Linked DNA regions of Homo sapiens. The protein of the gene in region 2 interacts with the protein of the main gene of each other region in a pairwise test. Each region holds a gene or a part of one and is shown on either strand. Other genes may lie near its edges.

Region 1 (4,787 bases), on a different chromosome or scaffold from region 2:
GCTCCTTCTCCCAGAGGCCCGGAGCCGGCAGCTGTCAGCGCAGCCAGGAGCGGGATCCTGGGCGCGGAGGTGGGTCCGACTCGCCAGGCTTGGGCATTGGAGACCCGCGCCGCTAGCCCATGGCCCTCTGCTCAAGCCGCTGCAACAGGAAAGCGCTCCTGGATCCGAAACCCCAAAGGAAAGCGCTGTTACTCTGTGCGTCCGGCTCGCGTGGCGTCGCGGTTTCGGAGCACCAAGCCTGCGAGCCCTGGCCACGATGTGGACTCCGCAAGGGGCTAGGGACAGGCAGGGGGAGAGCCCGGGTTTGCGCACACCTTCCAGCCCCTGGAGGGAGCCTGCTCGGCTTCGAACGCCTTCGAACTTTTGACCTTCAAAGGAGTCCCTGGAAAAGGTCAGGAGCGCCTGCTGCAGGCACGGTTGCCGAAGGCCAGGCCTTCCTGGCGCAGGGGAGGGCCAGGGGAGGGAAGCGGATACTCAGTCGCTGTCCGACGGCGAGTTTTCGGAGCAGCAGGCTCATGATCCCGGGCCAGTGGCGAGAGCAGTGACACCGAGAACCCAAATCTCCGCGCCCCCATCCGCGGCCCGGTGTCCTCCCGGCCCCTGCTGACCTCCAGGTCACGCACCCCACTGCTCCACGGCTCTGCAGCCTGTGGCACACGGCCGAGAGTCCCCACATGATCTCGACGCCAAGGTAAGGAATTGCCCTGCGTCCTCTGAGCCTGTCTCTGGCCTGGGGGGCCGGGAAAGCTGCACTCCTGGAAGAGGTGGGGTTATGTGACCGCCGCTGCAGGGGTGCGCGGAGGACTCCTGGGCCGCACACCCATTTCCAGGCTGCGGGAGCCGGACAGGGGAGGGCAGAGGGGGGACAAAAGGACTCTTTAGGTCCAAAATGACCCTGAAGGAGAGTCCAGAATGCCCAGTGGCCGCGTCTGCAACGGAGTCTTCTTTCTCCAATTGCCTTCTGCCCCATCACCATGGGCCCCACCTGCGCCACCTGCGCCCACCCTGTGACCCTGGCTCAGCGACCTTGGCCCTTAATCGCCCAACGCCGATTCCTCAAAATTCCGGCTGCGCTGAATCGGGCTGCTTTTGCCGCCGCCCCGGCAGTTGGGCCCTGTTTCCGCCGGCGCCCTGGGAGAGGCCTCACCACTCGGCTGGGCTCCCTGGCCCCTCCCTTCCCCTGGCCTGAGCGCCCCTGCGGCCTCCCGCTCCTCCTGAGAAGGCGACAATCTCTTTGCACCTTAGTGTTTCGAGGACAGAAAGGGCAGAAGGGTCACTTCGGAGCCACTCGCGCCGTTTTCACGTGTGTGTGTAATGGGGGGAGGGGGGCTCCCGGCTTTCCCCTTTTCAGCTCTTGGACCTGCAACACCGGGAGGGCGAGGACGCGGGACCAGCGCACCCTCGGAAGGCTCGATCCTCCCCGGCAGGGCGCCTGGCCAACGAGTCGCGCCGCCTCCTCTCGGCCGCGCCTGCTGGTGACCTTCCCGAGAGCCACAGGGGCGGCCTCGGCACCCCTCCTTCCCTCGCCCTCCCTGCCGCCCATCCTAGCTCCGGGGTCCGGCGACCGGCGCTCAGGAGCGGGTCCCCGCGGCGCGCCGTGTGCACTCACCGCGACTTCCCCGAACCCGGGAGCGCGCGGGTCTCTCCCGGGAGAGTCCCTGGAGGCAGCGACGCGGAGGCGCGCCTGTGACTCCAGGGCCGCGGCGGGGTCGGAGGCAAGATTCGCCGCCCCCGCCCCCGCCGCGGTCCCTCCCCCCTCCCGCTCCCCCCTCCGGGACCCAGGCGGCCAGTGCTCCGCCCGAAGGCGGGTCTGCCATAAACAAACGCGGCTCGGCCGCACGTGGACAGCGGAGGTGCTGCGCCTAGCCACACATCGCGGGCTCCGGCGCTGCGTCTCCAGGCACAGGGAGCCGCCAGGAAGGGCAGGAGAGCGCGCCCGGGCCAGGGCCCGGCCCCAGCCGCCTGCGACTCGCTCCCCTCCGCTGGGCTCCCGCTCCATGGCTCCGCGGCCACCGCCGCCCCTGTCGCCCTCCGGTCCGGAGGGGCCTTGCCGCAGCCGGTTCGAGCACTCGACGAAGGAGTAAGCAGCGCCTCCGCCTCCGCGCCGGCCGCCCCCACCCCCCAGGAAGGCCGAGGCAGGAGAGGCAGGAGGGAGGAAACAGGAGCGAGCAGGAACGGGGCTCCGGTTGCTGCAGGACGGTCCAGCCCGGAGGAGGCTGCGCTCCGGGCAGCGGCGGGCGGCGCCGCCGGGTTGCTCGGAGCTCAGGCCCGGCGGCTGCGGGGAGGCGTCTCGGAACCCCGGGAGGCCCCCCGCACCTGCCCGCGGCCCACTCCGCGGACTCACCTGGCTCCCGGCTCCCCCTTCCCCATCCCCGCCGCCGCAGCCCGAGCGGGGCTCCGCGGGCCTGGAGCACGGCCGGGTCTAATATGCCCGGAGCCGAGGCGCGATGAAGGAGAAGTCCAAGAATGCGGCCAAGACCAGGAGGGAGAAGGAAAATGGCGAGTTTTACGAGCTTGCCAAGCTGCTCCCGCTGCCGTCGGCCATCACTTCGCAGCTGGACAAAGCGTCCATCATCCGCCTCACCACGAGCTACCTGAAGATGCGCGCCGTCTTCCCCGAAGGTGAGGCCTCAGGTGGGCGGCCGGGGACGCTGGGGAGCCCGGCGGCCCCGGCCCAGGCGGGAAGCGCAAGCCAGCCCGCCCAGAGGGGTTGCCGCGGCCTGGCGTCCAGAGCTGGGGCGTCTGAGGGAGGTTGCGTGAGGGTCTTCGGCTTCGGCGCTGGCTTGGGGCGAGGGGCCAGGGCCTTGGCGGCCCAGGCGACCAAACCCTCTCCTGGTCCAGGGCTGGGTGAGGGCGAATTACGAATTGTTCCAGGGGCAGGCAGTCCCCCAGCCCGCACGGCCAGCGAGTTCTTTCTGGTTTTGTTCTTTCTCCCTTTCCTCCTTCCTTCCTTCGCCAGTGCATTCTGGTTTGGTTTGGATTTTTTTCTCTCTTTCTTTCCTTTCTTTCTTTCTTTCTCTTTCTTTTTCTTTCTTTCTTCCTCTTTCTTTCATTCTCCCCTTCCTTCCTTCCTTGGCCCCCTCTCTCCCTCCCTCCTTCCTTCCTTCCTTTGCCAATGCATTGGTTTGTTTTCTTTCCTTTTCTGCTTTCCTTCCTTTCTTTGGAAGTTCACTCTGGTTTTGCTTTCTTTCTTTCCCCATCCCTTCCTTTCTTTATCCCTCCTTCCCTTCCTCCTTTTCTTTCTACGATTCCCTTTATTTTTCCTTCATTCCTCCCTCTTTTTGTCTCTTCTGGAGGAGGTGAAGGAGGGTCAGCTTCAGGCGCTGCGAGTCAGCGGGGATCACGGTGAGGCCCAAGCACTGCAGGCTGAGGCCACAGAGCGAACACTTGTGCTGAGCCGGGCCCTCTCGTGAGGCTGGGGTGCGGGAAGTCCGGGCAGGAGAGACCCGCCCCCGCCGTTGCTGAGCTGAGACCCGGCTGAAAGAGAGGGGTCCGATTAATTCGAAAATGGCAGACAGAGCTGAGCGCTGCCGTTCTTTTCAGGATTGAAAATGTGCCAGTGGGCCAGGGGCGCTGGGACCCGCGGTGCGGAAGACTCGGAACAGGAAGAAATAGTGGCGCGCTGGGTGGGCTGCCCCGCCGCCCACGCCGGTTGCCGCTGGTGACAGTGGCTGCCCGGCCAGGCACCTCCGAGCAGCAGGTCTGAGCGTTTTTGGCGTCCCAAGCGTTCCGGGCCGCGTCTTCCAGAGCCTCTGCTCCCAGCGGGGTCGCTGCGGCCTGGCCCGAAGGATTTGACTCTTTGCTGGGAGGCGCGCTGCTCAGGGTTCTGGTGGGTCCTCTGGGCCCAGGAGCTGGGAGGGCTGCGCCGGCCTCTGGAGCCCCGGGAGCCAGTGCCGAGGTAGGGAGACAACTTCCGCCGCAGGGCGCCGGACGGTCGGGGCAGAGCAGGCGACAGGTGTCCCTAGGCCGCAGGGCGCTTCCATAGCGCCATCCCCACCAGGCACTCTACTCGAAATCGGAAAGCTCGACCTTTTGCGTTCGCCTCTGCCAAGCCTGTTATTTGTGCTGGCCGCTGGGTCTGGAGCTGCGCTTCTCGGCCCCTCCCCGGTGGAGCGCAGAGGGCTGGTCTGCAAGCGCGGCCTCCAGCCCCGCGGCTCCCCGGCCCAGGAGCCAGGCGCGGGCTGACCCGGGAGCACCCGGCAGCGGAGGGGGCTGGAAGCGGACCCTAGGCCTCTCCTGTGCCACCCGGCCCTACCGCGCGGCCGCGGGGCGCTCTCCTCTCGGGCGCAGCGGTCCTTCAGCCCAGGGCAGGTTCCTCCCTTTCCTACTCGGAACGTGGCAAAGATACCCCAGTCCCAGCCCCTCCAGCTGAGAGCTGTTGCCCAAGGTCGTCGCTACTTGTCCGCTCAATGGTGACCCCTTGGCAGAGAACTAGGGATGATTCCACTCCGGTTGATGTTTTAGGGGAAATTAAAAGAACATTCGGTTTTCTGAGTCTCCTTCCGGGGAGGCGTGGTGGTAACTGGTTTGCTGGGAAGAGCCGTTCCTTAACCGCATGCAACAAAGCAGGTGTGGAATCCGGACGAGAGGGCACTCACTGCCTTCTGCCCCCTTTGGAAATAGAAAAAGCCTTCGAAGCAGCAATCCAAAGATCAAATGATTTGCGGTCAATGATTTCAATTAAACCAGAAATTAGTAAGGGAGGGCCGAGAAGACACGGCTGCTCAGAAGCTGTTCGCTGTTTGAGGGATTTCCCGGAGAGCCTGTTAAAAGATGCGAAGTGGTGG
Region 2 (5,003 bases):
ACTCCAAATGTCAATAGTCCCAAGGTTGAGAAAGTCTGTATTGCATAGAATTCGCTCTCACAAAGACTCCCCTTTTACAGATTAGACGACTGAGGCCCAGAGAAATAACGTGTCTTGGCCAAGGTTACCCTGCCAGTTGGATTTGGACTGGGATACAAATGCAAGCCCGCTTCATTCCATGGTCCATTATGTTCCAGCCATGTTCTCCCCTCGTGGTAGACAGAATTAATTTAAAGATGAGGAAACGGAGGCTCAGAAAGGTACCGTGAACAGTTTAAAGTCACAAAGCAGAGATACTCCAGAGGCCTTTATTAGGAATAAAAATATAAATAAAAAACCAGCTACCTTTGGACACAATTGACTCCACTACCCAAGCGTGACAGGCTCACCTATCTCATGTCCTTTACTCCCTGCCCAGGGGAACTTCACTCAGCCCAAGGCCCAGATCAAATGCTACCTTGCCCATGATCCCAAAGAAAGAAGTCAGAGAGGGCAGAAGCCACCCCATTCTCTCCCTGTGTCCTTAGGCACTTACAGTATTGAGAGGCCAATGGGAGGAAAATCCTAGGCTTTTGGAACAGGAATAAATAAGCAATGTTTCTGTCCATAAAATGACTACAGTCTAGAGGCGGATACTATGTGGATCACTTTATCCCCTGCAGAGACGATACAATCTCTGGTCCGGAAACACGGGTGATTAGGGATTGTATGGGCCATTTGAGAGTGGGGCCAGGCTTAGAGGGCCGTTCACACATGCAATAATAGTAAGAACAAACATTTACAGAGAACTTTCTAGGTGTTGGGCTTCACACATGCAATAATAGTAAGAACAAACATTTACAGAGAACTTTCTAGGTGCTAAGTACTTCCCATGGAACCCCGGGGAGGACCTTGGAGCTAGGTACCATGATCGTTCCCGTTATACTGATGAAAACACTGAGGATCTTGAAGCAAGGAAACCAGCCCAAGGCCACCCGGCCAGCAAGTGGGGAGCTAGGATTTGAACCTGAGCAGCTGACTCTAGGCCCCAGAACTTCCTCCCCTCTCCATACCTTCCGATAAGGCGGGTGATGATCAACATTGCCCAGAGCAACCTGACAAGAAGCTGGGTTTCCCAAGGCCTTATCCCATGGGGTGGGTGGATGGAAGGGGGAGCAGGCAGGGTACCTGCCACTTGATCAATAACTCAAGAGCAGGTAATAATTTCTTCTGGGAAAGGTGGAAAGGGCAGGGTCAGGGGGCAAAGAAGTTCAGAAAGAAAAGGAAGGAAGGAAAGAGAGAGATGGGAAAGGAAACGGGAAAGAGAAAAGTGAGAGCGAGCGCGCGCCACGCATGTTCCTTCCCAAGGTCGTGGTAGCACCGAGGGCACCGCGAGGGCCCGGCGTTCCCGGGAGGGGCCGTCACTGCCCAGAGAGGGGCCGTCACTGCCCAGGCAGCGGTCGCCCCTGACTTCCCGGGGCCGCGGAGGCGCGCGTGGCGGGGCTGGCTTGCCCCCGAGCGGCTCCGCAGCGAGCTTTCCCAGCCCGGTGTTTACTTGGCCCGAGCAGCGGCCGGACCTGCAAGCAGGAGCCTGCGCGCGGCGGGTGTCGCGTGTGCCGGGTGGGAGTGGCGTAGCCCGCGGTGACTGCGGGTTGGGGGGGCGCCACGCGTCCGGGCGCGGAGTTGGTACGCTCGGTTCGGCGTGCGCGCGGCCTCGGACTCCCGGCTCCGCGGGGCCCTTCCGGAGGCTCCCGCCCGACCCCCGAGCTTCCGACGGAGGCGCCGAGCGCCGCGCCGCGTCCCCAGGGGCCCCGTGCACGCGCAGAGCGCCTCTGCGGCCGAGCGCGGCGTGGCACTTGGCAGACGGTCCCTGGCGCGGGGGCGGGGGGCCAGCCGTCTGGGAGCCCCGAGGGCCGCCCCCTCCCGCCCCTCGCCCGGCCCCCGCGCGCTGCCTCCGCCCCCGGCCCAGCCGCCCGGCCCCCAGTCCCGCCCGCCGCGCCGGGAGCCCGGCCCGCCGCTGAGCCCGGCCCGCCGGCGCGCCCCGTCCGGGATGGGGCGCCTGGACGCCTGAGTTGCCGCTCGGCGCGACGGAAGGAGCCGGCGCCGCGCGGCCGCGCTAGAATGGAGGCGCCCAGCGGCAGCGAGCCCGGCGGCGACGGGGCCGGGGACTGCGCCCACCCGGACCCCCGGGCCCCTGGCGCCGCGGCGCCCAGCTCCGGCCCCGGCCCGTGCGCGGCCGCCCGGGAGTCCGAGCGCCAGCTGCGCCTCCGCCTCTGCGTCCTCAACGAGATCTTGGGCACCGAGAGGGACTACGTGGGCACCTTGCGCTTCTTGCAGTCGGTGAGTGTCGCTCGGGAGCTTGGGGACAGCTTTCCCTCCAGCCGCTCGCCCCGCTGCGGTCCCCACAACCTGTGGCCGTGGTCCCCGTGGGTGGAGAATTGCCTCGGGGGCGCCCCGCAGGGCGCGCGGAAAGCGGGGGGGATCCGAGCTCCTCCAGAGCTGTCGCGTCGCCTCCCTCCCTGGCCGGCGCACGGTCCTGCTCCGACCGGGGCTCTCCCGCACTCCACTTCCCCGCGGCGCGCGCTGCCCTTTTGTCTTTTCTTCCCCGTCCCCGCCTTTCAAATAGTTTTAAAATTAGTTACATCCGCGATGCAGGGGCTTGGGGACCCCGGCGGCGCCGGGAGCTGGCGCTCCTGCGTCTTTTTCCCAGGAATAACTACGCGCCCGGTGCACCACTCATCTAGGACATACCGTAGGAGCCCCAGAGCCCAACGTCCCTGCGCGTTGATGGAGTAGGATAAAACCTGAAGCTCAGAGGAGGGGCGGGGATTGACAGAACCCCAGGGTAGAATCCCCCATGCACAGGTTTTTGCTGGAGTTCGGGGAGAGTGGGTTTCGAACTCAAAACTCGGCAGTCCAGGCTCCCTAACTGCATCCACCCCCACCAACTCCCCATCTCCAAGTGCAAAACCACGGCCTCAGACTTTGTAAAATAACAACCGACCACTTACTATGTGCCAGACACCTTACATGTGTCATTAATTAGCAGGTTTAACCTTCACAGGCGGTCTATGAAGTAGGGACGAGTATTTCCCCCATTTTTAATTAAAAAAATTTTTTTTTGAGACGGAGTCTCCCTCAGTCACCCAGGCTGGAGTACAGTGGCGCAATCTCGGTTCACTGCAACCTCCGCCTCCCGGGTTCAAGCAATTCTCTTGCCTCAGCCTCCCGAGTAGCTGGGATTACAGGCACGCGCCAGCCACCACGGCCGACTAATTTTTGTATTTTTATCAGAGAGGGGATTTCACCATGTTGGCCATGCTGGTCTTGGACTCCTGGCCTCAAGTGATCCGCCGACCTCGGCCTCCAAAGTGCAGGGATTACAGGCGTGAGCTACTGGGTCCTGCCTCCTCCGTTTTTAAGATTGGGAAAGTTTAGCTCCAGAGGGGCCGGGTAGCTTGTCTGGGATCGCACAGCTGATTAAGTGGGGGTACTGGGCTTTGAACCGGGACTATCCCAGCTGGTGTTCTAAACCCCTATTCTATGCTGCATTTTTCTTTTGCTTTTTTTCTGTGAGAGGGAGGAAGGGGCCACTTCCCTACTCTCCTAGGAAGTGAGAAAAGTGGCCAGCGGGTGGAGGGGGTGGGACGGGGCAGAGCCTTGGATGGAAGTTAGGAGACTCTAAAGTCTTTAATCTCCATGCCTCCTGCTGGGGCCTCATTTACTCCCCTTCTCTGCTCTAGGAAGTCTTTTAATCCTGGTTCAGGAAGGGCTGGTGTGGGGGTGGCTCTTTCAAAGACCCTAGAGCCAGGCTTTGTAGCTCCTAGTCTTTGGGAGAAAGAGGGAGACTCTGGGGTCCTCTGGGGCTCCTCATGGCTTAGGGGTGCAGCTGAGGCTGTGTGAGATCAGAGTTCCAGCTCAGGGAGGAGACAGCCTTAGACTAGAGCCCTTCTGCCTGTGAAAGGAGATGTACTGGGGGCAGGGGGATGTGGGAGAGGGGGTTGTGCAGAAGCATTGAAAACCATTTGGCTAAAGGACCCTTCTAGGAAGGCCTGTAAGAATAAGGCAGGATTGGCTTTCTTTCCCATCCCTTCTTCTCTCACAGTTTCGGGGGTGGGGGGTGGGGGAAGAATTTGTTCTGTTAGAAGCTGGCAGTTTTTGAATTAAACATGTAGACAACCCTGGTGTCTCTGAGCAATGTCAAATTCTAGGGAACTCCTGACTTCTCCTTCTGAGCCACTCCATGCTCCTCTGCTTGGAAGAGAAACAGGAAATACAAACCAATTTTGATATTAATGGGAAAGAAAATATACCTCTCCCTCCCACGCCCCTGCCCTAGATGGTGTGTTTCATTTTAGAACAGATCTAGATTGTGTTTGAGTTAACTGTGGTTTTAAATCGTCCACGTGTAGAGTAGGAGGAAGCTGGAATAATGGAAATTGATTGGAGCCAACCATTCTTATTATTCAAGAAACAGGAAAAAAAAAGATTTCTCTACTTTCACATTATCTCCTTAACACTTTACATTTGCTGACTTCATCACATTTTTCTTTTTGTATCTGATGTGTCAGTTCTGAGATGAATTGGTTCTGACTTGGACATGTGTCTTGGACCAATCATGCTACGTGTCCTGACCTCAGTTTCCCCACCTGTGAAACAAGGAGCGGGGAATCCGGGCTTCCTTTCTGCCTGGGCCTTTTGTGTGTCCCCAAGCTGGTGCCAGAAACAGACGGATTGTGTAACCTGACCAGCCATACGTTGTTTGTGAGCCACAGGAGTCCTCTCTCATCTTGGCCCGTCAGGAATGGCCCCTAAACATCCCAAGGCATTTTCGTTTTCAAAACTAACCTGGGGCTTAGAGCTTCAGGAACTGCTAATTACCAAGGCTTTCCATGGTTGCAAGGCTGGCAGCCTCAGGTTGTGATTCTCTTCTGTCTTCCCACTCTCTCTTCTCAGCCTTTATATTTGCTAAGGGATTTTCCCTGCTGTCTCCTGGCTTGGAAGAATGCACGGTAATCCCTCCC

Evidence for each region.
Region 1: the proteins of PREX1 (region 2) and SIM2 interact in a two-hybrid assay, tested with the Homo sapiens proteins (one large-scale study listed by BioGRID and IntAct).

What each region holds. Positions count from the first base shown.
Region 1 is NC_000021.9:36,697,300-36,702,086, forward strand, and holds the start of SIM2 (single-minded homolog 2 long isoform), read left to right. Parts: upstream 1-1,815; 5' UTR 1,816-2,447; coding exon 2,448-2,622; intron 2,623-3,216; exon of another isoform or gene 3,217-4,787. UniProt on the Homo sapiens protein: Transcription factor that may be a master gene of CNS development in cooperation with Arnt. It may have pleiotropic effects in the tissues expressed during development.
Region 2 is NC_000020.11:48,824,958-48,829,960, reverse strand, and holds the start of PREX1 (phosphatidylinositol 3,4,5-trisphosphate-dependent Rac exchanger 1 protein), read left to right. Parts: upstream 1-1,961; 5' UTR 1,962-2,100; coding exon 2,101-2,319; intron 2,320-5,003.